Regions from separate parts of the Homo sapiens genome. Here region 1 is linked to region 2. The links come from fine-mapping of genetic effects on gene expression. Tissue or cell type: whole blood. Region 2 holds a variant in brackets; the other region holds the start of a gene. All regions are shown on one strand. Distances are from middle to middle.

Region 1 (2,681 bases), 52 kb after region 2:
CTATCTAAAACTGGATTTGTGTTTATTGTTCAGTTAGTGTCAAGTGGTTCTCTATTTTAACTGTTGTGAGGTAACGAAAAAAAGCCGTGAAGTGACATAAATGATGGCTGATCATGTGAAGGCCTAAAACGTCATTGTGAGTTTTGTGAATAAACATTTCCCAAGAAAAAAGCAGAGAAAGGAGGTGGGAAATTAAGTCACGGAGGGGAACATGGTAGCTTATGAGCATGACCGCCACACAACCAGGACCACAGTTAGTGGTCCAGGAACTATTGAGAGCCATGTTAATGAATCAATAGCATTAGCTAACAGCAAATTAGATAAGATACAACGTTAGTGGAATTTCTGTAAATTTATAGGGTTAATTTACAAATTATTTTAGTTTCATTGCTTTGTAAGAGCTATGCACACCTTAAGCCTAGTTGTACGTTTGCTCATATTTAAGCTAAGTTATACAAAGATCTTAAGTGAACGCCCTGTATACCTTCCAGGAGTTACTAATAAACGTGCAATGGGGCTTTAACAGGTGACATTTAACTCAGGGTTAAAAATTATGTAGGACTGGACTTCAGAAACAGAGGAAGAGAAGGGCCATACTGGCCGCGGGAGGAGACAACTCCAGGCAAGTGTGGGGAGCGCGAAGAAGCCGAGCCCCTGCGGAGAGCTGGTCGGGTGGCTAGGGCGTGGCGAGCGCGACGTCGCAAGGGCTAGGGACGTCTGGGTGGCAAGGAAGCCTTTCCCAGGATGCGAGACGGCTTTCCACATTTGGGCCTCCATGGACTTAGGCTCGCAAGCGGGACGCCCCTCAGTGTCCGTTTCCGAGGCCCCATCCCCGGAGGGTGCAGGAGAGTCTGCGCCCAGCGCGGACAGGGGCCCCGCGACCCTCGCTCGGGCTCCACTACGGCGGGCGGGCATTGGCTGCCCAGAGGGCCCAGTCGGCTTCCGGCGGCCGCGGGCGACTCCTGGTACCCCCGAGGCCCCGCGAACTCACCTTCACAAAGCTGTCGGCGTCCGGGAAGCCTGGCAGCACCATCTCTCCGTCGGATTTGGTTGCGCTGGTCGCCGACAGGACCCTGGGCTCCCGGGTACTGGGTGGCGCCATTTTTTCAGCCTGCACGGCTCGTCTCGCGAGAGCTTGTCGGCCGAGGAGACGGGACGCGTGCGCACCACGCATGCGCCAGGTCGAAGCGGCGGGCGGGGCGTCTGATTATAGTGTGGGGAGCCTGCGATTGGGGTGGGGCGCCTGCGATTAGGTTGGGAAGCCTGCGTTTAGGGTGGGGCACCTGCGATTAGGTTGGGAAGCCTGCGATTAGGTTGGGAAGCCTGCGATTAGGGTGGCACTTTCGAGCGCTCTGGTGTGAATTTCACGTTCTTTTACCTCATATTGTATCATCCCAACAACCCTGTGATCTAGGGTGCGGCCTGGAGGACCTGACTATCACATATATTTTTGACACGAGGTTTGCCCAATCTGGTTTCGAACTCTTGGGCTCAAGAGATCCTCCCACCTTAGCCTGCGAAGTAGCAGGGACCCCAGGCGAGGGCCACGATCCCCGCTTATCCTCGTGTTTATTTAAAAATTTAAAAAACAAACAAACCGGGATTACCGGGAGTGGTGGTGCGCATCTGTAGTCCCAGCTGCTCGGGAGGCTGAGGTGGGATGGTTGCTTGAGCCGAGGAGGTGGAGGCTCCACTGCACTCCAGCCGGGGTGACAGGATGAAACCCTGTCTCAAAAATTTCTTTTTAAGGTTATGTTTTTGAGGCTGGGCGCCGTGACTCACACCTGTAATCCCAGCACTTTAGGAGGCCGAGGCGGGTGGATCACCTGAGGTCGGGAGTTGGAGACCAGCCTGGCCAACATGGTGAAACTCTGTCTATACTAAAAACACAAAAATTAGTCGGGCGTGGTGGCACATGCCTGTAATCCCAGCTACTCGGGAGGCTGAGGCTTGAGCCCGGGAGGTGGAGGTTACAGTGAGCCGAGATCGAACCACTGCATTCCAGCCTGGGCAACAGAGTGAGACCTTGTCACAAACAAACAAAAAAAACCATGTTTTTGGGACAAAGTTTCACTCTTGCTCTCCCAAAGTGCTGGGATTACAGATACGAGTCATCAGCGTGCAGCCTATTTTTATTTTTATTTTTTTTGAGATGGAGTCTCACTCTGTTGCCCAGGCTGGAGTGCAGTGACGCAATCTTGGCTCACTGCAACCTCCCGCCTCCCGGGTTCAACGAATTCTCTTGCCTCAGCCTCCCGAGTAGCTGGGATTACAGGCGTGCACCACCACGCTCGGCTAATTTTTTTCGTATTTTTAGTAGAAACGGGGTTTCACCATATTGGCCAGGCTGGTCTCGAACTCCTCACCTTGTGATCCTCCCGCCTCGACCTCCCAGAGTGCTGGGATTACAGGCGGAGCCACCGTGCCTGCCCTGTTTATTTTTTTTTTTTGAGACAGAGTCTCACTCTGCTGCCCAGGCTGGAGTGCAGTGGTGCAATCTCAGCTCACTGCAACCTCCGCTTCCTAGGTTCAAGTAGCTGGGATTACAGGCGTGTGCCACAATGCCCGGCTAATTTTTTTTTTTTTTTTGTATTTTTAGTAGAGATGGGGTTTCACCATGTTGGCCAGGCTGGTCTTGAACTCCTGACCTCAAGTGATCCACCTGCTTTGGCCTCCCGAAG
Region 2 (2,671 bases):
AAGGCCTCGAACCCCGTGAACGGCTTCTCGTTGGAGTAGTCGGAGCGGAAGGTAATGTCCAGGCTGGAGCCCAGCGAGTAGAAAGTGTCCTTGCCAGGGGCCCGCTCCGTGTCTGTGCTCTCCTGCCCGCACAGCGTGGCCAGCACCTTGGCCCCCGAGCTCAGCTGTGGGGTCAGGTGTCACAGGGAGTGAAGGCAAGACCCAGGCCTGATCTCCCTCCTGGCCAAGCCTGGCCCCTGCTCCCAGGTGTCCCTGAACCCTGGCTACTCCTTGGGGACCCCCCGACCCTGAGAAACCCCAGCCCTCCCGTCCTGACGGCACCTTGACGAAGTCGTACTCGCAGAGGTGGGAGAGCTCCAGGTCGAAGTGGGTGAAGTAGAGGCGCAGGCGGTAGCCGGGGGGTGCAGTCAGGGTCCAGCGCCGCTCCTGGTCATTGGCATACTCCCCTGGAAAGCCGGGGGATGCCAGGCGCCCGAACACAGGTTCAGGCCACTTCGGGCCCAAGGGGGTGGCCACCGAGCCACACAGAAGGCCCAGGAGGGTCAGCAGCCTATGGGCAGGGCAGGGGCGGTGAGGGCCCAGGCCTGTGCTCCCACCCCACACCCTGCAGGGAGGCTGTGGGCGCCCACCTACCTCATGGTGTGCCCGTCCAGCTGGCCTGGCCTGGTCTGCAGCCCTACGCTGGTCTCACCTTTGATCTGTTTGTCCAGTGACCTGCCCCTGCCCCCAGCCTCCCTGACTCTGGGATTCTGGGAATCGACTCCATGACTCCAGCCTGCTCAGAGTTCCAGGCAGGCAGGACAGGCTGCTCTGGGAGCCAGGAGTCGGACCTAGGTAACAACAGCCTGGAAACAAATCCTGGCTCTGCCCCTCACCCCTCCCTTTTTTTTGGATCTTGTTCTGTTGCCCCGGCTTCAGTGCAGTGCTGCAATCATAGCTCACTGCAGCCTCTACTTCCTGTGTTCAAGCAATCCTCCCACCT[C/T]AGCCTCCCAAGTAGCTGGGATTACAGGCGAGCACCACCACACCTGGCTAATTTTTTATTTTTGGTAGGGATGGGGTTTCTCCATGTTGGTCAGGCTGGTCTTGAACTCCTGCCCTCAGGTGATCCACCTGCCTTAGCCTCCCAAAGTGCTGGGATTACAGGTGTGAGCCACCGTGCCCAGCCTCAGGCTGGCTAATTTCTTAAACCCTGTCAGAAGGACCTGGTGCCACCAATTCCCGATTCCCTTGCAGGCTTAGAAGTCGCTTTTGGCTGGGCTCGGTGGCTTATACCTGTAATCCCAGCACTTTGGGAGGCCAAGGTGGGTGGATCACGAGGTTGGGAGTTTGAGACCAGCCTGACCAACATGGTGAAATCCCATCTCTACTAAAAATACAAAAATCATCCAGGTGTGGCAGCGCGCACTTATAATCCCAGCTACTCGGGAGGCTGAGGCAGGAGAATTGCTTGAGCCTGGGAGGCGGAGGTTGCAGTGATCCGAGATCGCACCACTGCACTCCAGCCTGGACGACAGAGTGAGACTCCACCTCAAAAAAAAAAAAAAAAAAAAAGAAGTTGCTTTCCAGGCAGTTATTTCACACCTGTTTATCTGTTCTTCCAGCTTCCAGAACTTTGAGGCTGCTGCTTCCTCTTCCACACTCTGTCCTCATGGATTCATGTCTTGTCTTTTTTTTTTTTTTATCCCCTTTATATTTGTTTTTGTTTTTTGTAGAGATGGGGGTCTCCCTGTGTTGCCCAGGCTGGTCTTGAACTCCTGAGCCAAAGCGATGCACCTGCCTCAGCCTCGCAAAGTGCTGGGATTACAGGTGTGAGCCACCAAACCTCTGCCTCCGGGGTTCGAGCAATTCTCCTGCCTCAGCCTCCCGAGTAGCTGGGATTACAGGCATGCGCCACCACGTCCGGCTAGTTTTGTATTTTTAGTAGAGACGGAGTTTCTCCATGTTGGTCAGGCTGGTCTCGAACTCCCAACCACAGGTGATCCACCCGCCTCAGCCTCCCAAAGTGCTGGGATTACAGGCGTGAGCCACCATGCCTGGCCTATTTTCTTTTAGAGACCGGGACTCTGGCTGGGTGTAGTGACTCCTGCCCATAATCCCAGGAGGCTGGGAGGCTGAGGCAGGTGGGTCGCCTGAGACCGGGAGTTCAAGACCAGCTTGGGCAACATAGCAAGACCTTGTCTCTAAAAAAAAAAAAAATTTTTTTAAATTAGCCAGGCATGGTGGCATGCACCTTTAGTCCCAGCTACTTGGCAGGCTGAGATGGGACAATCGCTTGAGCCCAGGAGGTCTCAAGGTTGCAGTGAGCCATGTTCATGCCATTGAACTCCAGCCTGGGTGACAGAGTAAGATTTTGTCTCAAAAAATACATACATAGCAATAATAATAATGCAAGAAAATTTCCCAGAACTGAAGAACGTGATACTGATCGAAAGTGTGCCCCAAGTGCCCAGAAAAGGAGATAAAAATATTAATACAGCTTTACACATATTTAAAAACACTGGAGAGAATAATTATGTTTTACAAACAAAGAGAAAGAGAAAAATCAAATAGTAAATCACATGCAAAAGATCAGGAAAAAGAATTATTTTGGAGTTAAACCTCATCTCTACTAAAAATACAAAACTTAGCTGGGCATGGTGTTGCGTGCCTGTAATCCCAGCTACCTGGAAGG

What was found. PIP is the estimated chance that this variant, and not a neighbour inherited with it, causes the effect.
Region 1: it holds the start of EXOSC10, and the variant in region 2 is fine-mapped to the expression of EXOSC10 in whole blood (TOPMed, PIP 0.97).

Annotation. Positions count from the first base shown.
Region 1 is chr1:11,098,730-11,101,410 of GRCh38, forward strand. EXOSC10 (exosome component 10) reads right to left here and starts at 1,140. Exons shown (of 25, transcript NM_001001998.3): 1 at 992-1,140. The coding sequence starts at 1,102. EXOSC10-AS1 (EXOSC10 antisense RNA 1) reads left to right here and starts at 946. Exons shown (of 2, transcript NR_135062.1): 1 at 946-1,085. RefSeq lists enhancers at 306-868, 520-579, 869-1,429 and a silencer at 481-682.
Region 2 is chr1:11,046,570-11,049,240 of GRCh38, forward strand. MASP2 (MBL associated serine protease 2) reads right to left here and starts at 670. Exons shown (of 11, transcript NM_006610.4): 1 at 634-670; 2 at 322-550; 3 at 1-164. The coding sequence starts at 638. RefSeq lists an enhancer at 1-7. The variant C/T (reference allele first, on the strand shown) is at 983.